2 separate regions of the Homo sapiens genome follow, and region 1 is linked to region 2. A link means that fine-mapping ties the variant in region 2 to the expression of a gene that starts in the linked region. Tissue or cell type: whole blood. Region 2 holds a variant in brackets; the other region holds the start of a gene. All regions are shown on one strand. Distances are between the middles of the regions. Region 1 holds the start of RNFT2 (ring finger protein, transmembrane 2). Region 2 overlaps RNFT2 (ring finger protein, transmembrane 2).

Region 1 (13,680 bases), 20 kb after region 2:
TCCACAGAGTGAGACGGGGGTCTCACTCTGTTGCCCAGGCTGGAATAGTGTGATCATAGCTCCCTAGAGCCTCAAACTCCTGGGCTCAAGTGATCCTCCCACCTCAGCCTCCTGAGTAGCTGGGATTATAGGCATGTGCCACTGCAATTGGCTCCAGGAAATATGTTTTAAAATATATAAAAGACCAGCCATGGTGGCTCACGCCTATAATCCCAGCACTTTGGGAGGCCAAGGTGGGCAGATTGCTTGAGCCCAGGAGTTCAAGACCAGCCTGGGCAACATTGCAAGAACCTGTCTCTACAAAAAATTAAAAAGTAGCCAGGCATGGTGGCACGCACCTGTAGTCCCAGCTAGTGGGGAGGCTGAGGTGGGAGGATGGCTTGAGCCCAGGAGGTGGAGGTTGCAGTGAGTTAAGATCACGCCACTGCACTCCAGGCTGGGTGACAGAGCAAGATGCTTTCTCAATAAATAAGTAAATGAATAAATAATAATAAAACACATATGTCCAGCATCTGTATTTAAGGATTCAACCAACCTTGAGTCGTGGACCAAAACCCACAGATACAAAAGGCTGACTGTCCTAGCCATTTTATACCAGGGACTTCAGCAGCTGCATATTATCATATCCGTGGGGTCTTGGAACCAATTCCCCCATGAATATGGAGGGCTGACTGTATTTGATTATTTCACGATCCCACTAAAAGCCCTCCCAGGGCTTCCCATTCTGTGTTCCTTCCCATGGTCTCAGAGGAACCCTCTAGACAGGTACAAATATCATTCCCAAATATCATGTTCCTTACTGACAAACAAACTGAGGCTCAGAGAGATGAAGTTGCCAGGCGCCCTGGATTATTTGACTCCAAACTCCAATCTTATCATGTGCCCCTTTCTCATCATTCAAGGGCTTTCTACTACAGGCTATCACCTTCACCGGATGTCTCCCCTAACCCGTACCCCATCCCAACTAGGTAATGCACGCTCATCTGTCAGATTTCAGCTAAAATCTCCCTCCCTGGATTGAGGCTTCACTCCTTCCTAGACAATGACAGTCCCCTGCTCCTTGCTCTCACTGCACCCTCATGTCACCTGCACAGGATTGATCACAGCTGTTATTTTATTCCTCATCTTTCCCTTGAGACCTGTGGCTCTCAATCCTGGCCATATATTATAATCACTTGGGGGAGCTTTTGCAAAAGACAGGTGCCCCGACCCCACTGGAGACCAACTGAATCAAAATCTTTATGGGTGGGCCCCAGCACCTGAAGTTACTCAGAGTCCCCTCAGTGATTCTTGTTTTTTTTTGAGCAGGGTCTCCCTCTGTCACCCAGGCTAGAGTGCAGTGGCGCGATCTCGGCTCACTGCAACCTCTGCCTCCCGGGCTCAAGTGATTCTTATGCCTCAGCCTCCCGAGTAGCTGGGATTACAGGTGTGCGCCACTATGCTTGGCTAATTTTTGTATTTTCTGTAGAGATGGGTTTTCACCATGTTGGCCAAGCTGGTCTCGAACTCCGGAGCTCAAGTGATCCACCCGCCTTGGCCTCCCAAAGTGCTGGGATTACAAGCATGAGCCACCATTCCCCACTGCCCCCCGCTACAGTGATTCTAATGTGTGGTCAGTGCTGCAAACCATAGCTTTGGACAGAGCTCCACTCCACAAGGTCAAAGACCATAACCTTGCTCCCCACTGTATCTTTACCACCCGGCACAATGCACCTGGCACTCAGAACATGCTTAATAAAAAGTGTTTGAAAGAATACATGAACAGGCATACTAAACGCTCTGAGAAGGCCTGCAAGTGAAATAATGGACTTTGCTTAAGCCCAGTGTTCCCCAAACTTATTTGACCACAGAATTCTTTTTATCCATGAAAAACCATTTAACAGCTTGCAGAACACCTGTGACACACAGCAGTGGGACACGGTGGTTTCCCTGGCTGCACAAACTGGGCCTGCAGGTATGTTACTAAAAACCTAGTGAGGCCAGGCATGGTGGCTCATGCCTATAATCCCAGCACTTTGGGAGGCTGAGGTGGGCAGATCACTTGAGGTCAGGAGTTTGAAGCAGGCTGGGTGTGGTGGCTCACACATGTAATCCCAGCACTTCGGGAGGCTGAGGTGGGAGAATCACTTGAGGCCAGGAGTTTGAGACCAGCCTGGCCAATATGGCAAAAAACCCTCTCTACTAAAAATACAAAAATTAGCCGGGCATGGTGGTGCATGCCTATAATCCTAGCTACTCAGGAGGCTGCGGCAGGAGAATCGCTTGAACCGGGGAGGCAAAGGTTGCAGTGAGCTGAGATTGTGCCACTGCACTCCAGCCTGGGCAACACAGTGAGACTCTATCTCAAAAAAAAAAAAAAAAAAATCTGGTGCAATGGAGGAAACTCACGATTGGATTCCCTCCCTCACCAAGCCCCACCCCTGCTGGCTCCAAAAGCCCAGGAAATATGCGCTCCTCCTCCACTGGGCTCTGGATAATAATAATGATAATATTAATAATGACAACAACAGCAAACACCATGGCTATGATCCTCAAGGGGCCTTGAGCTTTTTCTGCACTTCAAAGAGCTCAGCTCAGAAAGCAAGAGCCCTGGCAGGTACCCATGTTGGTCCATGAGGAGGCCACTCTCTCTCCGTGGCCACCCAAGGGGCCCTAGAAAGCCATCCTGTCCCCCTTGAGCTTGCCAGCACTCTGAGTTCACTGGGCTCAGGGGCCTCCAGTACAACCAGGGAAGACTCAACTCACCAAGGGGCTTTTTATAGCTGGCCTCCCTTCCCTGGGCCTCTCCCCTGCATCCAGCCGAGATTTCAGCCTGACTGGGAAAGAATATTCCTTAGGGGGACAGAGGCTGTGCTTCCAACTTAACCACTTAAGCGCCAGAGCTTGAGGCAACCCAGGAGGAAAAGTGGTTCTGCTCAGACACTAGGCAGCCAAAATGTGCTATCTCAAAGCACAGGTGCTGGGGGACACAGGGATGGGGGCCCAAATCTCAGCCCTGCTACTTCCTGGCTGTGTGACTTTAGGTAATTTCCTTCCCCTCTCTGAGCCTCAGCTTCTGCATTTGTAAAATGGGTGCTCTCACTGGGCTAATGTGGCGGTTGGCACAGCATAAGCACTCAATACACGGTTTGAGTTTCCTGCTGTGCTCTCTGCCCGCAAGAGATCTCATGGTTCACTTGAGAGCAGATGACAATGTTGTCTTTAGAGGCGGAAAAGGTTCCAACAGGCAGGCTTATTACAAGCCGGATGCTGTTTCTGCATCTTCACACTCACTCCTTCATCCATAAACAACTCTTTTTTTTTTTTTTTTTTGAGGAGGAGTCTCACTCTGTCACCCAGGCTAGAGTGCAGTCGCATGATCTCTGCTCGTTGCAGCCTCCACCTCCAGGGTTCAAGTGGTTCTCCTTCCTCAGCCTCCTGGGTAGCTGGGACTACAGGCATCTGCCACCACACTGGCTAATTTTTGTATTTTTAGTAGAGATGGGGTTTCAGCATGTTGGCCAGGCTGGTCTCAAACTCCTGATCTCAGGTGATCAGCCTGCCTTACCCCCGCAAAGTGCTGGGATTACAGGCATAAGCCACCATGCCTGGCCCATAAGCAACTCTTGAGTTCTGTTACCTGCCATTTTTGGATGGAGAAGCTGAGACCTAGGGGTGAAGTCATGTATCAAAGTCACCACAGGTGGGAAGTGGCTGAGCTGGGGTTTGGCTGAGCCCCGTGTTCTTCCCTGCAGAACAGGCAGGCACCATACAAAACTCAGTCCCAGTGCTGGGACCGGGGGATACCATTTGTGATTCTGTAGCCAACCCCAGAGTCGCAGGGGGTATGGGATGTGAGGAAGGGAAGGCTTGGCTGCCCGCCCCTTGGATGTATGTGCTAGGACAGGGCTTCTGGGGCTGGAGGCTGTCCCAATCTGAGAACAGGCCCCCAGGTGTGTTCCCTCTTGGGTTTCAATAGATATAAATTCTAGGCTGGGTGCAGTGGCTCATGCCTGTAATCCCAGCCCCTTGGGAGGCTGAGGTGGGCAGACTGCCCAAGCTCAGGAGTTCGAGACCAGCCTAGCCAACATGGTGAAACCCCATCTCTACTAAAATACAAAAAAATTAGCCAAACGTGGTGGTGCGTGCCTATGGTCCCAACTACTCGGGAGACAGAGGCATGAGAGTAGCTTGAACCCAGGAGGCGGAAGTTGTAGTGAGCTGAGATTGTACTACTGCACTCCAGCCTTGGTGACAGAGCAAGACTCCATCTCAAAAAAAAAAAATTCTAGCTCATGAGTGTTTTTTAACCGGTTTTTTTTTTTTTTTTTTTTTTTTTTTTTTTAGATTCTACCTGGTATCTATTAATCACAGGGCCAAACTAACGGCCAAAGTTATTTACATGTCCTTGTGATCCAGAGCCCATAACCCCAACCACTGCTTCATTTAACCTTTTTTTTTTTTTTTTTTTTTTTTTTGAGATAGGGTCTCACTCTGTTGCCCAGGCTGGAATGCAGTGGTGCAATCATAGCTCACTGCAACCTCCACCTCCTGGGCTCAAGCAATCCTCCCACCTCTGCCTCCTGCATAACTAGGACCACAGATGCATGCCACCATGCTGGGTAAGTTTTTATTTTTTGTAGAGATAGGGTCTCCCTATTTTGCCCAGGCTGATCTCAAACTTCTGGGCTCAAGCAATCCTCTCACCTTGGCTTCCCAAAGTGCTGAGACTATAGGTATGCACCACCATACGTGGCTAGTTTTAAAGTTTTTTAGTAGAGACAGGATCTCCTCATGTCACCTAGGCTGGTCTCCAACTAACTCCTGGACTCAGGTTATCCTCCCACCTTGGTCTCCCAAAGTGTTGGGATTACAGGCGTGAGTCACTGCATGGCCCTTCCTTCATCTAAGTTTTACACACGCAGCCAATATTTCTCCTGTCCTAAATCATCTAGGGCCAGACACCAAACTAAAGAGCACCTTGAGGCCAGGCGTGGTGGCTTGCGCTTATAATCCCAGCGAGCAGGAGCTTGGGCGGCCAAGTCGGACAGATCGCTTGAGCCCGGGAGTTTGAGACTAGCCTGGGAAACATAACAAAACCCTGTCCCTACAAATACAAAAATTAGCCGGGCATGGTGGTGCATGCCTTTAGTCCCAGCTACTCGGAAGGCTGAGAGGTAGGAGGATTGCTTGAGCCTGAGAGGTCGAGGCTGCAGTGAGCCGAGATCGTGCCACTGCATTCTAGCCTGGGCAACAGAGGGAGATCCTATCTCAAAAAAAAAAAAAAAAAAAAGAAACCACCTCGGTACCCCAGAGCCCACCAACATGATTCAAACTAGCCAGTCCTAAACTATTGCCCCTGCCTTGCCTTTCTTTCCCCCAGAAAACACAATAAAGGCTGTGGCCTATGCTTTTTCCTCGGTCCTTTCTGCCCTCTGACTATTGCTGGTGCTTCCCCAGGTGGCCCTGCAAGCAGTAGTATGCCCCTTCATCTTGAGAAATGGAAGAAATAAAAATCTCATCTTTCAATGTCATTAGCCTCTCCGTGTTGTTTCTCAGAGCTATGATCTCAATGTTTGTGTAGATTCTTATGTTGAAACCTAACCCATGCCAGGTGCAGTGGTTCACACCTATAATCCCAGGGCTTTGAGAGATCAAGGTAGGAAGATCGCTTGAGCCCAGGAGTTTGAGGCCAGTCTGGACAACTTAGTGAGACCCCGTCTCTACCAAAAAATTTTAAAAATTAGCTAGGTATGGTGGCACATGCCTGTAGTCCCAGCTACTCAGGAGGCTGAGGCAGGAGGATTGCTTGAGCCTAGGATTTGGAGGCTATAGTGAGCCATGATCACCACTGCACTCCAGCCTGGGTAACAGAGCAAGACTCTCTCTCAAAAAAGAAACCTAACCTGTAATTTGATCGTATTGGAAGGTGGGCCTTTGGGAATGATTAGGTGATGAGATGGGCTCTTCACGAATGGGATTAGTGCCCTTAAAAAGGAGACCCAGAGAGATCCCTTTCCCTTCACCACATTAAGACATAGCAAAAGAATGGCCATCAGTGAACCAGAAAGTGGGCCTTTCGCAGACACTGAATATGCTGGAGCTTTCATCTTGGACTTCCTAGCTTCCAGCACTGTGAGAGATAAACATTTGTTGTTTAAACCACCCATTCTATGATATTTTTGTGATAGCAGCCTGTATGGACTAAGACATCTCTATAAATCAAAATTCCACAGGTACATTCATTGATACAATGAGTCAGGTGGCTCACCTATCACACAGGACTTTGAAATTTAGCATAAAAGAAAGAGCAAGCTATTATGCGTTGAATGTTTAGTATGAGGCCATCAGTGTGACTCTAACAACTAACGCTGAGGGTGAGGTATTGTTCAATCCAGTTTTGGGTTGCCCCTCACCACCCGAAGCCTAGAGCCCTCAGATGGAACAGAAGCAGGGATGCCTACCTTTCAGGTGGAATGTTATCCGTGTTGCTGCTGTGGCGTCTCTGCATCTTCCTTAACACCTAAAACCCAACACATGGGTGAGCCAGAGTCTCCCAACACTCCCACTGCCTGTCAGATTGCCAAGGTAATTGTAAACTGCAAACCTGCACTAGTCGTATCTTAGACCCCTAGTGCTCTCTGGCATTTTCCAAAGTATGTTTCAATCTTTCATGCCATTCCATCCTCAATGTGACATTCTATCCCATGAGGAAAGCTATCACCCCATTTCACAGAGGAGGACGATGAGACTCAGAGGTGGAGAAAGTCCTCATGTGAGAGGATAACGCGGTAAACTGTGCAGCCAAGAGGTGCTGGATGAAGTGAAGTGGGCAGCGGACTGGCAGGAGACATGGATTCTGGGTTGATGCTGCTGCTAACTTGCTGTGACCCTAGACAAATCAGTAACCCCTCTGTGGGTTCAGATTCCCCATGTGTTACATGGGAGGGGTGGAGTGGTCAAACCAAAACTTCCTTCCAGCTCTCACATTTAATCAAGTAGTAATAAAGATGCAAATTCTCTTGGAGACGTGTCACCTGATTCACTGTGAAGAGCCACATGGACTTCAGAACTCCATGTTGACGACACTGGAGGTAGGCATTCGGGAATCCTCAGGGGGATGTGACCAATGGATCCCAGAGAGGACAGGCCTCCCCCTCCTCTTCGTCTCCAGAGGGATGCACAGTCAGGGGAGCTTGCCAGAGACTCCAAACCTGGATGGAACAGAACACCTGGATGAACAGTCCCTGCGATACCTTGAATCTGCTAAGAAGCCTTAGGACATTGTTGGTAGCTATAAGCAGATGATTCCATCTGCTCAGTATCTCTGGGTAGCCTCTCAGTGATCCCCCCTTGAAACTCCTTTTTTTTTTTTAAGACGGAGTGGTGCGATCTTGGCTCACTGCAACCTCTGCCTCCCAGGTTCAAGCGATTCTCCTGCCTCAGCCTCCTGAGTGGCTGAAATTACAGGCTTACAGGCATGCGACACCACGCCCACCCAATTTTTGTATTTTTAGTAGAGATGGGATTTCACCATATTGGCCAGGCTGGTCTCAAACTTCTGACCTCAAGTGATCCGCCTGCCTTGGCCTCCCAAAGTGCTGGGATTACAGGCATAAGCCACCATGCCCGGCCCTCTTTGAAACTCTTAAGGTATTGTATTTCATCCTATTGTCAAACTAAGAGTCCTGATTGGGGAAGCCAGAAAATATGTTTTAAACCCTCCAACGGCTGCCCAGTGCAATCAGAATCAAACCCGAGCTCTGTCCATAGCCTACGGGTTCTTCCTGATGTAGCATCATCTGTTTCCAACTGCATTTCCTCCCATTCTCCCTTTTCCCACTCCTGTCCACCCACAGTGGCCCTTCTGTTCCTCTAATGTGTCAGCGTGTCCCTGCCTCAGGGCCTTTGCACTTGCTGTGCCCTCCCCTTGGAATACTTTCTCCTCTAAATGTGGCAGGGCTTGGTCCCGCAGGGCAAATGTCGTCTCTTCCCAGAGGCCTTCTCTTCTCATTCTCCTGACTCCCCGTAATATTGCCCTGTTTTATATTATTCATAGCACTTATTTGTTCATGTTTGCTTATTTATTTATGATTTGTCCTCCCCATTAGAATATAAATGCCATTCCTGAAAGTAGGGATCCTGTCTACTTGGATCACCCCTCTGCCTCAGCATCCAGGACACTGTTTGGCACAGAGTGGCGCTCAACAAGTATTTACTCAATGAATAAAACATCTATGGGTCTCCCAGTTCCCCTTTTCTAGATCCCTTGCTCCCTGTCCCACCTTTCACCCTAGCAAGGTAATAAGGGCCATCTACTTCCCATGAAAAGGTTTAGCCTCCGTGAATATCTTCTTGTCTCTGGAGGCAGAGCCAATATTGTGGATATAGGGTGTCTATATCAGTCAGATGGTGTCTGACTTCAGTTTAGGGCACGATTATTGGCTGTTGAATGACTTCCTAATCCTGACCAGGCTTCTTGAGGGGGCAGCAATGGTGTCACTAGGGCCACTGATTAAAAATGACCCGCCAGTGAAGCCTCCTTTCTCTTTTGAAAAATTAGGTAACAAACCGGTCAGCAGCAGCATCTTCATATATCAAGAAAAGGTCATTATATAAATATTTTTCAAGAATTTGCAATCTCAACTTAATCCTCCTCTCGCCCCTCCCTCCATTATCCCACATTGCAAATCCTTGGGGGAAAATAAAATTCATATTCCAAAGTTCTCATCCACACATTTAACTCCTAAATCGAATGCTCGAAACTCTACTTTCGGATGCTTGTATTGGAAGAGGCTTCGGATTCTTTGTCGGAAGCAGGCCGTACATAATTCTGGAATAAATTTTTGCACGCGGGATGCATCTGAATGAATGAAACGCTTTTTAATCCTCTGCTCTGTACATCCCACTATGTCCCTTTGAAGGACCGCACCGAGACTTTTCGATGCTTGCGATGGTTCAAGTTGCGCCCCTGGGGCCCGTTACAGGACTGCACCGAAATGCACTCAGAGGAGCATCGCCTGCATCACTTGGACTGGAAGCCGGCAGGTGCACTTCGGGAACAACGTCGCGAGCGCTTTTCATCCCTGCAACCAACACACAGCGCAAAACGCTCTGGGACTGCAAGGGCAGGAGACTACACAGACCATGATGGGAGAAAAGAAAAAAAAATCGCGTTCTCTTTTTACCTGCCCAGACAATTCAGCAATCACAGCCGCATCATTCAGGTCCAGCCAAGCCAATCACCCGCGCAGCCTGGGCAGCATGTGACTTCCGATGCTTCCGGCCTCCTATTGGGTGGTTTCTTGGCGTCGCCGGGTCCGGCGCTAGGACCCGGGCACAGCTACGCCCGCAGCACTCACGCGATTGTCCGCCCCCTTTCCCGGCACTTAACCAATAGGAGGCCGCCGTTCCTTAGGGACCAATGGTGAGAAGATCTTGCGCGACTAGCCCTTGTCGCTGCGGAGCGGAGGCGGGGCGTAGGGCGGGGTCACGTGGGGCTGCGCCCAAGGCTGCCGGGAGCAGACTGGGCTGCGGGCGGCGGGGCCGGCGCCTGCCTGGAGGGATGGGGCTGCCGGGCGCGTAGGGGCCATGCCGCCCGGGACCCGGGCCTGCCGCGTTCCGCGCCCCGGCCGCCGCGCCCCACGTCCGCGCCGGGATGGTGAACCTGGCGGCCATGGTGTGGCGCCGGCTTCTGCGGAAGAGGTGGGTGCTCGCCCTGGTCTTCGGGCTGTCGCTCGTCTACTTCCTCAGCAGCACCTTCAAGCAGGTCAGTGGCCGCCCTTCCCCTCCTCCCCTTCCCTTCTTCCTTCCTTCCTCCCCCTTACTTTACTTTCTCCTTCCTTCCTTCGTTACCTTCCTCCTTTTTTCCTTCCTCCCTGTCTTCCTACCCCTTCCCTTCCTTTCTTTCTCCCCTTCCCTTCCTTCCTCCTTCCTTCCCTTCTTCCTACCTCCCCTCCTTCCTTATCTTCCTCCTTCCTTCCCCTCTCCCTGCCTCCCTTCCTTCCTTACCTTCCTCACCTTCCTCCTCCTTCCTTCCTCCCCCTTTCCTTCCTCCCCCTTCCCTTTCTTCTTTCCTCCCCTTTTTCCTCTCCCTTCCCTTCCGTCTTTCTTCCTTCCCTTCCTCCTTCCGTCCTCCTCCTTTCTGTCCCCCTCTCCCTTCCTTCTTCCTTTACTCCCTTTCTTCCCTGACATCCTCTTTCCTCACTTCGTTCTTCCTCCTTCCTTCCCTTCCTCCTCTTTTTCCTTACTCCTCGCGTTTGTCCGACCTCCCGACTTCTGCAGCGGCGCCGCCGGGGCGTCCGAGGGTGGGGAGAGGTGCGCATTCCTGTCCCGGTCTCAGCACGGGTGAGGGACCTGCCCACCGCCTTGGTCCCTGCAGCGGGAAGGGGTTGCTAGGCCAGGGCAGAGCTGGGACTAGAACCCCGAGTTGAGGACCCTTCAGCGGTGGGGACTGCTTTTATGAACACCTCCCTGCTTTTCACCTGCCCGGTCCAGAGCTAAGAGAGGGCGTGCATTTGCTGGCTTCATCTTCGCAGCAGGCCTGGGAGAAGTGGGGTTCCCAGTATTACAGTGGGGGAAACCAAGACATAGGTGGCGAGGGTCGGCCAGCCCTCGCATGGGTGCCCTTCGTTTAATTTGGGGGCTCTGTGTCCTCCTGGGTGACTCAAAAGGACCCACAGTTCCTTTTATGCTTTTTGTGCATAACTTGATTGGTAGAATTCCACCCCTCCAACACACTGCACCCTTTCATTTTTCTTCCATGTGAGAATTTCTGGGAGAAACAGCAAGGAGCACGGGTGGGGAAATCTTACCCAAAGCATTAATAAGTTTGTCTAGAAGTCCAGGTTGAGTGCTTAGTTGTGTAGAAAGGGTGGTTACACCCCAGGGTGCACCCAGGATAATGGGTTATGCTGTTGTCCTGACATGGTTATAAAAAGCTCTCCTTTTTACTCTCAAAGCTCAAGTGTGTAAATAAAATATATAAGTGAATAGAACATTGATAAAACTATGTGGTCACTCTACATTTAGTGGATTGGCAGGGGAGCTGTGAAAAGGGAAGAATAGGGAATTGTACGTGACCTGCCACCTTAGGCAAACAGAGAGGCTGAGTGTTGTAAGTCCCTTTTATTGGCCGGGATGTCTGGGCAATCATGTGACTACCAGACTTCTGTGACTTGTGTTTTCTGCCACCTCAGACACCTCCTCACAGTCGCGTGTTGTCCCTTCTCTGTCTTGTGACCCCTGAGTGGTGGGGTGCGCCAGGACTCCGTCCTCTGCCTTCCTCTCTATCTGACTCAGGTAATCTCTGGGCCATTGTTTAAATACTCAGGTGATCTCTGGAGGTATGCTGTTGATGCCAGTAGTTGATAACAACAGCCTAGATCTGTCCAGAAATCCCCAAATTCTTATATCCAATTGCCTAGTTGATATCTTTTTTTTTTTTCAATTTTTTTTTATTGTGGTAAAATACGACATAAAATTTCCCATCTTTTTTTTTTTTTTTTTTTTTTTTTTTTAAAGACTGAGTTTTGCTCTTGCCCAGGCTGGAGTGCAGTGGGACGACCTCAACTCACCACAGCCTCCACCTCCCGGGTTCAAATGATTCTCCTGCCTCAGCCTTCTTGAGTAGCTGGGATTACAGGCATGCGCCACCATGCCCAGCTAATTTTGTATTTTTAGTAGAAACGGGGTTTCTCCATGTTGGTCATGGCTGGTCTTGAACTCCCGACCTCAGGTGATCCACCCACCTCAGCCTCCCAAAGTGCTGGGATTACAGGTGTGAGCCACCACGCCTGGCCAGAATTTCCCATCTTAACCTTTTTTAACATGGAGTCTCACTCTGTTACCCAGGCTGGAGTGTAGTGGCATGATCTCAGCTCACTGCAACCTCTACCTCTCGGGTTCAAGCAGTTCTCCCTGCCTTAGCCTCCTGAGTAGCTGGGATTACAGGCATGCACCACCACACCCGACTAATTTTTGTATTTTTAATAGAGACAGGGTTTCGCCATGTTGGCCAGGCTGGTCTCGAACTCCTGACCTCAAGTGATCCACCTGCCTCGGCCTCCCAAAGTGCTGGGATTACAGGTGTCAGCCACCACGCCCGGCCCCATCTTAACCATTTTTAAAGTGTGCAGTTCAGTGGTATTAAATACATCCTTAACGCTGTGCGACCATCACCACCATCCATCCCCATAACGCTTGTAGAAACTGAAACTTAATATTCATTTAACAATAACTCTCCATTTCTCCCTTTCCCCAGCCCCCGGCAACCACCCTCCTACTTTCTAGTTGACGTTGAATGTGTTCGTGTTTGGACCAACAGAACTCTTGATTCTCTGCCAGCACTTGTTCCTCCCCGAGTCTTCCCAGTCTCGCTCAGTGGCATTACTGTTCACCAGGTATTAAAGCCACTTCATTCTTTTTTTCTCCTCTCACTCCCTATATCCACAATATTGGCTCTGCCTCCAGAGTGTATCCTGAATCTGCTCATTTCTTCAGAGTGTCACTGCTGTCACTCTAGGCCAAGCCACTGGCATCTCTCGTCTGGACCACTGCAGTAGCCCAGCTGCAAGTCTCTGCTTCCATTCTTGTCTTCTTCTCTTCCCCGCAGTAGGGGTGATAATCTTTAAAAAGATGGGATCATCATGGCATTTCCCCAGGTAAAATTCTCAGATAAAACTCTGGATTGTCTTCCAGGATCTCTGCATGGTTGAATCTTTTTTGTCATTTCAGGTCAGACTGTTACTGCTTCAGACCATACCTGGTGACACGGTGTAAATTACTTCAATTCCTTGCTCATAAACCTGCTTTATTTTCTTTGTGGTAGGCATCACAAACTGAACATTTCTTGTTCATTTACTTGCTTATCTGTCTTGCCTCACTCTCTCTTCTAGACTATAATATTCTTGAGAACAGAGACCTTGTCTGTCTTGTTCATAGACTCTCCAGCCCCTAGGATACTGCCAGCCACTTCATGGGAATCCAAATATTGATTGAACAAACAAGTGAGTCTTTTTAACTGGGATGAATGTTTCTTTTCAGTCTGGCATACTTCTGCTAACCTTTCACCTCTTGGCTCAGGTGCTGTCCACTCTGTCACCTTCCCTACAACCACCTTTTCACTACCCTGATACATCATCTTCATTTTAAGATTATAGTCATGCGTCGCTCAAGATTCTGAAAAATGCATCTTTAGGTGATTTTGCTACACCCCTGGGCTATGTGGCATAGCCTATTCCTCCTAGGCTCTAAGCCTGTACAGCATGTGACTGTACTGAATACTGTAGGTGATTGCAACACGATGGAAGGTATTTGTGGATCTAAATAGATCTAAACATAGAAAAGGTACAGTAAAAATACTGTATAAAAGATATAAAATGGGCTGGGTGCGATGGCTCACGCCTGTAATCCTAGCAGTTTGGGAGTCTGAGGCAGGCAGATCACTTGACGTCAGGAGTTCGAGACCAGCCTGGCCAACATGGCAAAACCCCATCTCTACTAAAAATATAAAAATTAGCCAGGTGTGGTGGCACACGCCTGTAATCCCAGCTATGCAGGAGGCTGAGGCAGGAGAGTCGCTTGAACCTGGGAGGTGGAGGTTGCAGTGAGCCGAGATCACGCCACTGCACTCCAGCCTGGGCAACAGAGTGAGACTGTGTTTCAAAAAATATAAGAGTAAAAATGGTACGCCCATAAAGA
Region 2 (15,861 bases):
TTATGATCATTATCAAGCATTAGGTACTGTACATAATTGCATGCACTCTACTTTTATATGACTGGCAGGACAATAGGTTTACCCCAGCATCACCACAAATACATGAGTAAGGCACTGTGCTACAGCGTTATGATGGCTGCAATATCACTAGGTAATAGAATTTTCTAGCTCCATTATAACCTTATGGGACCACTGTTGTCTATATGGTCCATCGTTGACAGAAACATCATTACGTGACACATGACTGTAATATAAAAGGCCAAACTGGGCTGGGTGCGGTGGCTCATGCCTGTAATCCCAGCACTTTGGGAGGCCAAGGCCGGCGGATCACCTGAGGTCAGGAGTTCGAGACCAGCCTGGCCAACATGGTGAAACCCCATCTCTATGAAAAATACAAGAATTAGCTGGGCATGGTGGCAGGTGCCTGTAATCCCAGCTACTCAAGAGGCTGAGACAGGAGAATCACTTGAACCTGGGAGGCATAGGTTGCAGTGAGCCGGGATTGCACCACTGCACCCCAGCCTGGGCAACAAAGAGTGAAACTCCATCTCCAAAAAAAAAAAAAAAAGGCCAAACTGTGCAAAGTAAGTTTCTGATCTCCAGTGCCCACCAAGAGGCAATTATTATTTCTAGTTTCTTGGTTGTCCTTCCAGAAATATTCCAGACCTGCACTATTCATACAGTGTTCACTAACCATTTTGAACACTTGAAATGTGGTTAGTTGGAACTGACATGAGCTGTATATGTAAGATACCAGATTACAAAGAGTTAACGTGAAAAAAGAATGTAAAACCAGGGGCAGTGGCTCACGCCTGTAATCCCAGCACTTTGGGAGGCCAAGGCAGGTGGATCACGAGGTCAGGAGTTTGAGACCAGCTTGACCAATATGGTGAAACCCTGTCTCTACTAAAAATACAAAAATTCGCTGGGCGTGGTGGCGCATGTCTGTAATCCCAGCTACTTGGGAGGCTGAGGCAGGAGAACTGCTTGAACCTGGGAGGCGGAGATTGCAGTGAGCTGAGATCGTGCCACTGCACTCCAGCCTGGGCGACAGAGTGAGACTCTGTCTCAAAAAACAAGAAAAAACAAACAAAAAAAAAACATAATTTTTATATCGATCGTATGTTGAAATGACAATCTTTCGGGGCCAGGTGCGGCGACTCACACCTGTAATCAATCCCAGCACTTTGGGAGGCCAAGGCAGGTGGATTGCCTGAGCTCAGAGGTCCGAGCCCAGCCTGGGCAACACAGGGAAACCCCATCTCTACAAAAAATGTAAAAATTAGCCAGGTGTGGTGGCATGCACTTGTAGTACCAGCTACTTGGGAAGCTGAGGTGGGAGGATCACCTGAGCCCTGGGAGGTCGAGGCTGCAGTGAGCCATGATCACACCACTGCCAGCCTGGGTGATGCAGTGAGATCCTGTCTCAAAAAAAAAGCAAAACAAACAGACAAAACAAAAAACAAATATTTTTGATATACTGGGTTAAATAAAATCAATTATTATAATTGATTCCACCTGTTTCTGTTTAGTTTTCAGTAACTAGAAGATGTTAATTTACCTATGTGGCTTGCCTTGAAATTCTACTATTGAGTGCTGGTCTAGATATATATAAGTAGTAACAGCAGGGTGGAATTTGGAAGTTACAACATGACATAGAGCTTGTGCCTCATTCTCAAGTGAAAGGGTACGTGCCCCAAGCCCAGCCAAGTGCCCCACTCTCCCACCGTGGGGGTTGGATTCCCATGCTCACCTGTTGTACAGCTGCTGGGAGCTGAATGTATAAAGCACATAGAGGGTGTTCCCCGCCAGAAAGGCCAGGATCCACAAGATGACCAGCACTGACCTCTTCTCCTGAAGACAAAGCAAGAGATATGTGATATCAAAGGTGCATGTGGCAGAACCTTCCAGAATGTACCCTGATGACTGGCAGCTTTTCACTTTGTCAACATTTTGAAGGAAGTGGTGCTGAAGGTGAAAGGAAGGGCATTGGCACCTTTCTATTCCACTGATACCCAAGCGGTGGTCACGGAGAAGGTGGCAGAATGGTGGACATCTGCTTGAAAAACTATCTAGAAAGGCAAGAGAACACCATGGTTCGCAGCAGACTCCAGAGCAGCATGGCACACATTCAAATCCCTGGTCAAATCCTGTGTGGGAGCTGTCCAACTCCAGGCAAGTTATTTAAACTCTTTCAGTTTCCCTTTCCTCATCTGTAAAATGGGTATATCTTAGTATCTACCTTATAGAGTTGTAAGAATTAAAGTACATAAAATGCTGTTAAGAACTAAAGCACAGAGAGGTTAAGAAACCTCAAGGGGCTGTGTTTTAAGTCTCAGTGTCTTCATTTGAAAATGGGGTTGTTAAAGATTAAATCAAATTTTTTATTTTAATTTTTTTTTCTGTTCCCTAGGCTGGAGTACAGTAGTGTGATCATAGCTCACTGTAACCTTGAACTCCTGGGCTCAAGTGATCCTCCTGCCTCAGCATCCTAAGTAGCTAGCACCACAGGCAGGTGTCACTATACCTGGCTAATTAAAAAAAAATTTTTATTTTTTTTTAGAGACAGAGTCTTGCTATTTGGCTCAGGCTGGTCTTGAACTCCTGGCCTCAAGTGATCCTCCTGCCTTGGGCTCCCAAAACACTGGAATTACAGGCAAAAGTCAAATTTTTAAATGCAAACATTCAGTCTGGTACAGATTCATATTTAAAGCTTGCTAAGGGGTAGGACTGATTATTAAGAGTTTACAACCCAGCAGAAGATTCAGATCTAGAGGCTGGAAATTTCTGCTTTCACTTTTTCTAGGGAAGACCTCTGGCCCGCTGCCCTGGACTGACCATTCCATGGAATGCCACAGTGTAGAATTAAATCCAAGCTTATATACCTAATTCTCAAAGCCCTTCACAATCCAGCCCCATTTCTCCTTCTTCAGCCTCATTCCTGTCTAGTCCCCAGGAAGACAAATTGGAAATCCTCAGTTTGCTGTTTCCCAGCAGTTTCATAGCCTGACAGCAATCCTAGGAAATGTCTGAAGGAGATGCAAAGGGGGGCGTGTTCCTGCCTATGTACCCTGGGACACATAGGCAGATCCCTCTGCTGTTGATTCTCAACAGCTCGTGCCTTTTTTCAGACTGGAGTGGCTGCATTGCTGGAATAAGATGAGGTCATAACTTTCCCAGTGTAACCTTCCCTGTGGTTTCGGTAAATGCTCAATACACAGTGTCTCCAGACACAGCTCAGTGCCCCACGCACTGTTATGATGCACATTTCCAGAGAGTGGACGAAACAAATGCATCTCCATCCACCCATTATTCCAGGAGCAGTCAAGGTTAATGATGCTAGAAACCACCTCCAACCAACCAACTGCTCTTATCAATGTGATTAATCCACCTGGCAGCTCTTTTTACTCCAATGAATAATAGATTCCAGTTTAATTCTCTATGAATCCAAACCAAAGGTGGAATAGGAAGAGGGAATTAGCAATGTTCTGGGAAGACAGAAACTGAAGGACAAAGGAGGTAGTTCTCTCCTAATCAGCTGCGACGCCTAAGCTTACTAAGGGCCATGTAGACCTGCTCTTATGGAAGATACGCACATACAGGCAAAGTGTCACCTGTGTCTTCATGAGCATCAAGGACCCCTGGAGGCCCGTCCATGGATACAGAGATCCTCTCAGCTCCTAAAATTTAAGTCAAGGTGCCATTTGGATGTTACTGCATTTGAGACAGACCTAGCCCCCAAAGCTGCCTCCTACTGTTTTGTTTGTTTGTTTTTGAGACGGACTTTCGCTCTTGTTGCCCAGGCTGGAGTGTAGTGGCGCAATCTCAGCTCATTGCAACCTCCGCCTCCTGGGTTCAAGTGGTTCTCCTGCCTCAGCCTCCCAAGTGGCTGGGATTACAGGCGCCCACCACCATGCCCAGCTAATTTTTGTATTTTTAGTAGAGACGGGGTTTCACCATGTTGGCCAAGCTGGTCTCGAACTGCTGAACTCAGGTGATCTACCTGTCTCAGCCTCCCAAAGTGCTGGGATTATAGGCGTGAGCCACTGTCCTTGCCCCCTCCTACTGTTTTAACAACAGCAGAAAGGAGTTTGCATAAAGAAGATGAGACTAAGGGTCAGGAAGGACCTCTGACTCTGTCCCCAACTCCGAACCTCAATGTGCTCATGTGCAAATGGAGACTGGGTTGTCCTCCATGCTGCATGGAGGCCCAAGTGCTTTTGAGAAAGCAGACGATGCTATAGAAGGGTCAGTGAAGCTGGTGATTATTATGGGATCACCTGTGCAGGAGAAAGCACAGACTTTAAAAAAAAAATTATTTCCATAGGTTTTTGGTGAACAGGTGGTATTACATGAATAAGTTCTTTTGTGGTGATTTGTGAGATTTTCGTGCACCCATCACCTGGGCAGTATACACTGAACCCAATTTGTAGTCTTTAATCCCTCACTCCCTTCCCACTCTTTCCCCCAGAGTCCCCAAAGTCCACTGTATCATTCTTATGCCTTTGCATCCTCATAGCTTAGCTACCACTTATGAGTGAGAACATACAAAAGGTTTAGCTTTTCATTCCTGAGTTACTTTACTTAGAATAATAGTCTCCAATCCCATCCAGGTTGCTGCGAATTCCATTAATTCATTCCTTTTTATGGCTGAGTAGAATTCCATCATATACATATACCAGTTTCTTTACCCACTCATTGGTTGATGGGCATTTGGGATGGTTCTACATTTTTGAAATTGTGAATTGTGCTGCTATAAACATGAGTATGTAAGTATTTTTTTCGTATAATGACTTCTTTTCCTCTGGGTAGATGCCTAGTAGTAGGATTGCTGGATCAAATGGTAGTTCTACTTTTAGTTCTTTCCCCCCCCGCCCCCTTTTTTTTTTGAGATGGAGTCTCGCTCTGTCACCCAGGCTGGAGTGCAGTGGCGCGATCTCGGCTCACTGCAAGTTCCAACTCCCAGGTTCACGCCATTCTCCTGCCTCAGCCTCCCGAGTAGCTGGGACTACAGGCGTCTGCCACCACATCCAGCTAATTTTTTTTTTGTTATTTTTTTTTTTAACTGAGATGGGGTTTCACTGTGTTAGCCAGGATGGTCTCGATCTCCTGACCTTGTGATCCACCCACCTCAGCCTCCCAAAGTGCTGGGATTACAGGCGTGAGCCACTGCGCCCCACCTAGTTCTACTTTTAGTTCTTTAAGGAATCTCCACACTGTTTTCCATAGTGGTTGTACTAGTTTACATTCCCACCAGCAGTGCAGAAGTGTTCCCGCATTCATGCCGACATCTATTATTTTTTGATTTTTTGATAATGGCCATTCTTGCTGGAGTAAGGTGGTACTGCATTGTGGTTTTGATTTGCATTTCCCTGATCGGTAGTGATGCTGAGCATTTTTTCATAAGTTTGTTGGCCATTTGTATATCTTCTTTTGAGAATTGCCTATTAACATCCTTAGGCCACTTTCTGATGAGATTTTTTTTTTTTTTCTGAAAGCACAGACTTTTGAAAACTAGCTCAATTAAATGTTTCCTACATGCCAGGCACCATGCTAAACATTGCCTTCTTTTTATTTTTTCTTAAACAGAGAAGGTCTTGTTCTGTTGCCCAGGCTAGAGTGCAGTGGTGCAATCATAGCTCACTGCAGCCTCAAACTCCTGGGATCAAGCAATCCTCCTGCTTCAGCCTCCTGAGTAGCTAGGATGACAGGCACATGCCCCCACACCTGGCTAACTTTTTAAAAAAACTTTTGCAAGCCAGGTATGGTGGCTCACGCCTGTAATCCCAGCACTTTGGGAGGCTGAGGTGGTCGGATCACCTGAGGTCAAGTGTTCAAGACCAGCCTGGCCAACGTGGTGAAACCCCATCTCTACTAAAAATATAAAAATTAGCCAGGCATGGTGGCATGCACCTGTAATCTCAGCTACTCAGGAGGCTGAGGCAGGAGAATCACTTGGTAATCTTGGTGGTGCACACCTGTAATCTCGCTACTTGGGAGGCAGAGGTTGCAGTGAGCCGAGATTGCACCACTGCACTCCAGCCTGGGTGACAGAGTGAGACTTCATCTCAAAAAAAAAAAAAAAAATTGGTAGAGAAGAAAGGGGTCTTGCTATGTTGCCCAGACTGGTCTCAAACTCCTGGGTTCAAGGGATCCTCCCGCCTCAGCCTCCTGAGTTGCTGGGATTACAGGCATAGGCCACCATACCCAGTACTTGTGCTAAACACCTTGTATGCACTATTTCTTTCTTTGTTTTTTTTTTTTGTTTTGAGATGGAGTGAAACCATCTCAAACCATCAAACCATCTCAACCCAGGCTGGTGTGCAATGACACAATCTTGGCTCACTTCAACCTCCACCTCCCAGGTTCAAGCAATTCTCCTGCCTCAGCCTCCCAAGTAGCTGGGATTACAGGTGTGAGCCACCATGGCTGGCTAATTTTGTATCTTTTTAGTAGAGACGGGGTTTCACCACGTTGTTCAGGCTGGTCTCAAACTCCTGACCTCAAGTGATCCACCTGCCTTGGCCTCCCAAAATGCTGGGATTGCATGCATGAGCCACAGTGCCTGGCTCTTTTCTTTTTTTCTGTTTTTTTTTTTTTTTTGAGACAGTCTCACTCTGTCACCCGGGTTGGAGGGTGGTGGTGTGATCTCGGCTCACTGCAACCTCTGCCTCCCAGATTCAAATGATTCTCATGCCTCAGCCTTCTGAGTAGTTGGGATTACAGGCGTGAGCCACCGCGACCGGCCTGGATGCACTATTTCATTCAATCCTTTCAATGGGTTTGTGAATTGGTGCCAACAGGCTCTTTTCCAGAGGCGGCACCTGAGGCTGAGATCACCAAGGTAACCTAATTGAGGGTCTGCAGGTGGGTGGAGGAGCAGGGATTTGAACCTGGAATGAGCACGGGCTCAACTACCCAGGTGCAAATCATGATGCCATCACTTGCACTGGCTGTGTGACCTCAGGTAAGGAACTTAGTGTCTCTGAGCCACTGTTTCCTCAGTGGGAAAATGACAGAAAAATGATTTTGTTTCCCTCCCAGGTTGCTGGGATGAACCTGCTGAGATGAGCAATGGGCTCAGTACTGTGCCGGGCACGCAGTTAGTGCTCAGCAGACACAGAGGACATGCAGGAGGATGGTGGTGAAGCTCTATGTCCACCCAGCAGCATAAGAGGAATGGCCATAAGCATGAAGGTGGAATGAAAGTAACCTAATGGGGCCAGGCATGGTGGCTCACGCCTGTAAACCCAGCACTTTTGGAGGCCAAGGTGTGCGGATTACCGGAGGTCAGGAGTTTGAGACCAGCCTGGCCAACATGGTGAAACCCCGTCTCTACTAAAAATACAAAATTAGCTAGGCGTGGTGGTGTGTGTCTGTAGTCCCAGCTACTGGGGAGACTGAGGCAGAGGAATTGCTTGAACCTGGGAGGCAGAGGTTACAGTGCGCCAAGATCATGCCACTGCACTCCAGTCTGGGCAACAGAGCAAGATTCCGTCTCAAAAAGAAAAAAACAAAAAATGAAAGTGAGCTAATGAGCTGAATGTCTGCGGCGTAAAGGGACTGGGCTAGGTGTACGTGGAGGAGATGCTGCTGTTGGAGGGGAGAAAGAAGGAACATTCAGGGATCTACCCAGGGGTGATAGACCGAAGAATGGCCTCCCTAGGAGGCTGAGGTCAGAGGATTGCTTGAATCCGGGAGTTGGAGGCTACAATGAGCTATGGTCATGCCACTGCACTGCAGCCTGGACAACAGAGCAAGACTCTGTCTCTAAAAATTATGAAATAAAAGAAGAGGTTTTGGTGAGATCATGGCGGATGGGAGGCAGGACTAGATTGCAGCTCCAGAGAGAGCAGCGGGCGGCAGCTCGCATTGTGAATTTTAGCACCAGATTGACTGCAAGGACAAACCAGCAATCCCGAGAGGACCCACAGACTCTCTGAAGGAAACGGACTGCTCCTGCAGGACCCAGGAGAGCCCCCCAAAACTGCGAATGCCCCAACTGCGGAAGTGGGAAAGGGAGACCCTCCTCTCCCGAACACTCACCCTCACGGGGGAAGCTGAAGGTCTGTTTGCAGGAGAAGTTTCCAACTTTATCTGGCGCTGAGTCAATTTGGAAAGCCAAGCAAAATACAGGCGTAGAGGAAGCAGCAGCAAGGCCCTGGGAGCTCACTGGGTCCCCCAGCAGCCCATTCCTGTCTGGCACCACGGGGATCCAATGGGTAGGAGCAAGGGCTAAAACTCCACAGGGAGAAGCAAATCTCTAGCTGAACTGTGTAACAATTTGAACAGGGTAAGAAGCCTCCTGGCCAGAACTCAGGGGAGGGTGCAAATCCAGTGTGCAGACTCCACAGCGGCGGCACGAACTAAACCCTCTTCTTTGGCAGCTGGGAGGCGGATAGTCTGGGGCAGGTTTTCAAGCCCCTATCGCTCTCCACCTGGAAATGGTCTGGGGGCTGTTGTGGTGGGCATGGTGGGAGTGAGACCGGCCCTTCGTTTTGCAGGGGAGCTGGGTGAGGCCTGTGACTGCCAGCTTTCCCCCACTTCCCTGACAACCTGCATGACTCAGCAGAAGCAACCATAATCCTCCTTGGTACACAACACCAGTGACCTGGGAATGTCATCTACTTAACCCATAGCAAGACCCGCCCAAGGAGAGTGAGAGGTCAGAAACGCCTAGCCTCACCCCAACCCGATGGTCCTTCCCTCCTACCCACCCTGGTAGCGGAAGACAAAGGCCATAGAA[A/T]CTCGAGAGTTCTAGAGCTCCACGGGTTCCTCGCCACGCTACCACAGCTGATGCTCTCTGGAAAGCGCCACCTCCTGGCAGGAGGCCAACCAGCACAAAAATAGCGCATTAAACCACCAAAGCTAAGAACCCTCACGGAGTCCATTGCACCCTCCACCACCTCCATGGCAACAGGCACTGGTATCCATGGCTGAGAGACCCATAGACAGTTCACATCACAGGACTCTGTGCAGACAACCCCCAGTACCAGCCTGGAGCCAGGTAGACTCGCTGGGTGGCTAGACCCAGAAGACAGACAACAATCACTGCAGTTTGGCTCACAGGAAGCCACATCCATAGGAAAAGGGGGAAGAGTACCAAAAAGAGGGAAAACCCCCTGGGACAAAAGAATCTGAACAACAGCCTTCAGCCCTAGACCTTCCGTCTGACGGAGTCTACCCAAATGAGAAGGAACCAGAAAACCATCCCTGGTAATATGACAAAACAAGGCTCTTCAACACTCCCCCAAAATCACACTAGTTCACCAGCAATGGATCTAAACCAAGAAGAAATCCCTGATTTACCTGAAAAAGAATTCAGAAAGTTAGTTATTAAGCTAATCAGGGAGGGACCAGAGAAAGGCAAAGCCCAGTGCAACGAATTCCAAAATATGATACAAGAAGTGAAGGGAGAAATATTCAAGGAAATAGATAGCTTAAAGAAAAAACTATTAAAAATTCAGGAAACTTTGGACACATTTTTAGAAATGCGAAATGCTCTGGAAAGTCTCGGCAATAGAATTGAACAAGTAGAAGAAAGAAATTCAGAGCTCGAAGACAAGGTCTTTGAATTAACCCAATCCAACAAAGACAAAGAAAAGGGAATAAGAAAATATGAACAAAGCCTCCAAGAAGTCTGGGATTATGTTAAATGACCAAACCTAAGAATAATCAGTGTTCCTGAAGAAGAGAATTCTGAAAGCTTGGAAAACATATTTGGGGGAATAATCGAGGAAAACGTCCCCGGCCTTGCTAGAGACCTAGACATCCAAATACAAGAAGCACAAAGAACACCCGGGAAATTCATCGCAAAAAGGTCTTTGCCTAGGCACACTGTCATCAGGTTATCCAAAGTTAAAACGAAGGAAACAATCTTAAGAGCTGTGAGACAGAAGCACCAGCTAACCTATAAAGGAAAACCCATCAGATTAACAGCAGATTTCTCAGCAGAAACCCTACAAGCTAGAAGGGATTGGGGCCCTATCTTCAGCCTCCTCAAACAAAACAATGATTAGCCAAGAATTTTGTATCCAGTGAAACTAACAATCATATATGAAGGAAAGATACAGTATTTTCAGACAAACAAATGCTAAGAGAATTCACCCATTACCAAGAATTTGCCATTACCAAGTCACCACTATAAGAACTGCTAAAAGGAGCTCTAAATCTTGAAACAAATCCTGGAAACACATCACAACAGACCCTCTTTAAAGCATAAATCACACAGGACCATAAAACAAAAATACAAGTTAAAAAGCAAAAACAAAAAATGAAAAAACCAAAGTACACAGGCAACAAAGAGCATGATGAATGCAATGGTACCTCACATTTCAATACTAACATTGAATGTAAGTGGCCTAAATGCTCCACTTAAAAGACACAGAATCACAGAATAGATAAGAACTCACCAACCAACCATCTGCTGCCTTCAGGTGACTCACCTAACACATAAGGACTCACATAAACTTAAAGGGGTGGAAAAAGGCATTTCATGCAAATGGACACCAAAAGCAAGCAGGGGTAGCTATTCTTATATCAGACAAAACAAACTTTAAAGCAACAGTGGTTAAAAGAGACAAAGAGGGACATTATATAATGGTAAAAGGCCTTGTCCAACAGGAAAATATCACAATTCTAAATATATATGCACCTAACACTGGAGCTCCCACATTTATAAAACAATGACTAACAGACCTAAGAAATGAGATTGACAGCAACATAGTAATAGTAGGGGACTTCAGTATTCCACTGGCAGCACTAGACAGGTCATCAAGACAGAAAGTCAACAAAGAAACAATGGATTTAAACTATACCTTGGAACAAATGGATTTAACAGATACATACAGAACATTTCATCTGACAACCGCAGAATACACATTCTATTCAACAGCGCATGGAACTTTCTCCAAGATAGACTATATGATAGGCCACAAAACGAGCCTCAATAAATTTAAGAAAATTGAAATTATATCAAGTACTCTCTCAGACCACGGCAGAATAAAACTGGAAATCAACTCCCAAAGGAACCTTCAAAACCATGCAAACACATGGAAATTAAATAACCTGCTCCTGAATGAGCATTGGATCAAAAATGACATCAAGATGGAAATTAAAAAATTCTTCAAACTGAATGACAATAATGACACAACCTATCAAAACCTCTGGGATATGGCAAAGGTGGTGCTAATAGGAAAGCTCATAGCCCTAAATGCTTACATCAAAAAGACTGAAAGAGCACAAACTGACACTCCAAGGTCACCCCTCAAGGAACTAGAGAAACAAGAAGAAACCAAATCCAAACCCAGCAGAAGAAAGGAAATAACCAAGATCAGAGCAGAACTAAATGAAATTGAAACAAAAAAATTCAAAAGATAAACGAAACAAGAAGCTGATTCTTTGAAAAGATAAATAAAACTGATAGACCATTAGCAAGATTAACCAAGAAAAGAAGAGAGAAAATCCAATGACCTCACTAAGAAACGAAACAGGAGATATTTCAAGTGACACCACTGAAATATAAAAGGCCAATCAAGGCTACTATGAACACCTTTATGCACAAAAACTAGAAAACCTAGAAGAGATGGATAAATTCCTGGAAAAATACAACCCTTCTCGCTTAAATCAGAAAGAACTAGATACCCTAAACAGACCAATAACAAGCAGCGAGATTGAAATGGTAATTTAAAAATTACCAACAAAAAAAAGTTCAGGACCAGACAGATTCACAGCAGAATTCTACCAGACATTCGAAGAATTGGTACCAATCTTTTTAACATTATTCCACAAGATAGAGAAAGAAGGAACCCTCCCTAATTCATTCTATGAAGCCAGCATCACCCTAATACCAAAACCAGGAAAGGACATAACCAAAAAAGAAAACTACAGATGGATATCCTTGATGAACATAGATGCTAAAATCCTTAACAAAATACTTGCTAACCGAATCCAACAAATTACCAAAAAGATAATCCACCATGATCAAGTGGGTTTCATACCAGGGATGCAGGGATGGTTTAACATGCACAAGTCAATAAATGTGATACACCACGTAAACAGAATTAAAAACAAAAATCACATGATCATTTCAATAGATGCAGAAAAAGCATTTGACAAAATCCAGCATCCCTTTATGATTAAAACTCTCAGCAAAATGGCATACAAGGGACATACCTTAGTGTAATAAAAGCCATCTATGATAAACCCACAGCCAATATAAAACAAACTTTCCAGATACAAGATTAATGTACAGAAGTCAGTAGCTCTTTTATACACCAACGGCGACCAAGTAGAGAATCACATCAAGAACTCAACCCCTTTTACAATAGCTGCAAAACAAAAAACAAAAAACAAAAAAAAACCTTAGGAATATACCTAACCACGGAGTTGAAAAACCTCTACAAGGACAACTACAAAACATTGCTGAAAGAAATCATAGATGACACGAACAAATGGAAACACATCCCATGCTCATGAATGGGTAGAATCAATACTGTGAAAATGACCCTACTGCCAAAAGCAATCTACAAATTCAATGCAATCCTCATCAAAATACTACCATCATTCTTCACAGAATTAGAAAAAAAAAATTCCAAAATTCATATGGAACCAGAAAAGAGCCCACATAACTGAAGCAAGACTAAGCAAAAAGAAAAAGCTGGAGGCATCACACTACCTGATTTCAACCTATACTATAAGGCCATAGTCACCAAAACAGCATGGTACTGGTACAAAAATAAGGACATATCTTTTCCTTTCAGCCGGAACTGCCATCTTCTAGTAATTCGCCAAAATGACGAACACAAAGGGAAAGAGGAGAGGCACCCGATATATGTTCTCTAGGCCTTTTAGAAAACATGGAGTTGTTCCTTTGGCCATGTATATGTGAATCTATAAGAAAGGTGATATCGTAGACATCAAGGGAATGGGTACTGTTCAAAAAGGAATGCCCCGTAAGTGTTACCATGGCAAAACTGGAAGAGTCTACAATGTTACCCAGCATGCTGTTGGCATTGTTGTAAACAAACAAGTTAAGGGCAAGATTCTTGCCGAGAGAATTAATGTGCATATTGAGCACATTAAGCACTCTGAGAGCCGAGATAGCTTCCTGAAATGCATGAAGGAAAATGATCAGAAAAAGAAAGAAGCGGAAGAGAAAGGTACCTGGGTTCAACTCAAGCGCCAGCCTGCTCCACCCAGAGAAGCACACTTTGTGAGAGCCAATGGGAAGGAGCCTGAGCTGCTGGAACCTATTCCCTGTGAATTCATGGCATAATAGGTGTTAAAAAAAAAAAAAAAAAAGACCTCTGGGCTATAAAAAAAAATAGGGACATAGACCAATGGAACAGAATAGAGAACCCAGAAATAAACCAAAATACTTACAGCTAACTGAACATAACAAAAACATAAAGTGGGGAAAGGACACCCTTTTCAACAAATGGTGCTGGGATAATTGGCTAGCCACATGTAGGAGAGTGAAACTGGATCCTCATCTCTCACCTTATACAAAAATCAATTCAAGATGGATTAAGGATTTCAACCTAGGACCTAAAACTATAAAAATTCTAGAAGATAACATTGGAAAAACCCTTCTAGACATTGGCTTAGGCAAGGATTTCATGACCAAGAACCCAAAAGGAAATGCAATAAAAACAAAGATAAATAGCTGGGACCTAATTAAACTAAAGAGCTTTTGCACAGCAAAAGGAACAGTCAGCAGAGTAAACAGACAACCCACAGAGTGGGAGAAAATCTTCACAATCTGTACATCTGACAAAGGACTAATATCCGGAATCTACAACAAACTCAAACAAATCAGTAAGAAAAAAACAAACAATCCCATCAAAAAGTGGGCTAAGAACATGAATAGACAATTTTCAAAAGAAGATATACAAATGGCCAACAAACATGAAAAAATGCTTAACGCTGCTAATGATCAGGGAAATGCAAATCAAAACCACAATGTGATACCACCTCACTCCTGCAAGAATGGCCATAATCAAAAAGTCAAAAAACAATAGATGCTAGTGTGAATGCGGTGGACAGGGAACACGTCTACACTGCTGGTGGGAATGTAAACTAGTACAACCGCTATGAAAAACAGTGTGAGAGATTCTTCAAAGAACTAAAAGTAGAACTACCATTTGATCCAGCAATCCCACTACTGGGTATCTACCCAGAGGAAAAGAAGTCATTATTCAAAAAAGATACTTGCACACGCAAGTTTATAGCAGCACAATTCACAATTTTAAAATTGTGGAACCAACCCAAATGCCCACCAATCAACGGGTGTATAAAGAAATTGTGGTGTATATATATGTATATACATATATACATGGTGGAATGCTACACAGCCATAAAAAGGAATGAATTAACAGCACTTGCAGTGACCTGGATGAGATTGGAAACTATTATTCTAAGTGATGTAACTCAGGAATGGAAAACCAAACATTGTACGTTCTCACTGATATGTGGGAGTTAAGCTATGAGGACGCAAAGGCATAAGAATGATACAATGAACTCTGGAGACTTGCCGGGAAGACTGTGCCTGGCTTGTGGCTTATTTGTTGCAGCAGCCACAGGAGACTAGGTCGGAAAGTGACTCACCTTCAGTGAGACCTGTTCTCGAAGCGTGGAGTTGGCATAGGCGAAGGTGCTGGCCATCCCGATGCACACAGCAATGCCTGTGGGACAGAGAAGGGCCTGATGTCACCCACTTAGACTCATCAGGCCTAGCCCAGGTGCTGAGCAACATGGGGGAAAAGGCACATCCCTGGTCCCCTCAGAGTTGACAGAAGAGAGAGAAAAATAAAAAAAATCCCACTTCTTGGGGATTTGGGCTGCCATCTAAATCTCTGGGAATTCTGAGCCATTCTGACTTAGGGACAGGATTTAGGTCCCTGTGGGGATACTTTATAGCACTGGATCAGGGGATGGGCTGTGCAGTCTGGTAAGGGCTGGGTTCAATTCCCAGCTCTGCCACTTCCTCTCTGTTTGAGCTTGGGCAAGTCACCGCACCTCTCTAAGCCCCAGTTTCCTCATCTGTAAAATGGACAGAACAATAACATTACTTATACCTCATAGAGGGATAAAGCTTCTAGATCATAATCCCTAGCAGTTAGTGAATGATGCCTCTTATTATTTCTACTTTTAAAAAGAATCTGATTGATAGAATCAGATAGAATTTGTGATAAAAGCATACATTGAAAAAACTCACCGCTGGGTGCAGTGGCACACACTTGTAATCCCAGCACTTTGGGAGGCCGAGGTGGGCAGATCACTTGAGGCCAGGAGTTTGAGACCAGCCTGGCCAACATGGTGAAATCACATCTCTAGTAAAAATACAAAAATTAGCCACACATGGTGGCATGTGCCTGTAGTCACAGCTACCCAGGAGGCTGAGGCACAAGAACTGCTTGAACCCAGGATGGGGAGGCTGCAGTGAATTGAGATCACACCACTGCACTCCAGCCTGGGCAACAGAGCAAGACTCTGTCTCAAAAAAAAAAAAAAAAAAAAGAAAAAGAAAAAAGAAAAAGAAAAAACTTACAACGCCATAAGGAATTCAAGTTTAATGTTCAATGAGAAAAAAAAATCCCAGCTAACAGACAAACATGACCCAGGCAGATGGCAGAACGGAATTGAATTTTCTTCCACCAGTCATTTCATTGCCACTGTTTGCCAAGCTACAATCTTGGAATTCTCCCCAAATAATGATTTTCGAGTCCTGCTTTTTGTTATTTGTAGACAGGATTCCTCTTTCACCTGATGCACTTACTGTTTATTTATTGAGACACTGTCTCACTCTGTCGCCCAGGCTGGAGTGCAGTGGTGCGATCTCAGCTCACTGCAACCTCCACC

Evidence for each region.
Region 1: RNFT2 starts here. The variant in region 2 is fine-mapped to the expression of RNFT2 in whole blood (TOPMed, PIP 0.97). The same link has a PIP of 0.9 or more in nasal epithelium.

Annotation. Positions count from the first base shown.
Region 1 is chr12:116,733,858-116,747,537 of GRCh38, reverse strand. It overlaps RNFT2 (ring finger protein, transmembrane 2), which reads right to left and starts at 9,223. Exons shown (of 11, transcript NM_001382266.1): 1 at 9,168-9,223; 2 at 7,017-7,193; 3 at 6,444-6,502. The coding sequence starts at 7,040. It overlaps SPRING1 (SREBF pathway regulator in golgi 1), which reads left to right and starts at 9,469. Exons shown (of 5, transcript NM_024738.4): 1 at 9,469-9,748. The coding sequence starts at 9,638. RefSeq lists enhancers at 8,941-9,200, 9,969-10,927 and silencers at 9,391-9,650, 9,731-9,780.
Region 2 is chr12:116,752,807-116,768,667 of GRCh38, reverse strand. It overlaps RNFT2 (ring finger protein, transmembrane 2), which reads right to left. Exons shown (of 11, transcript NM_001382266.1): 5 at 14,608-14,684; 6 at 1,754-1,854. It also overlaps the pseudogene RPL21P105. Among named protein-coding and RNA genes, the nearest start is that of RNFT2, 22 kb to the right of the region's middle. RefSeq lists enhancers at 7,738-8,937, 8,463-9,047. The variant A/T (reference allele first, on the strand shown) is at 8,747.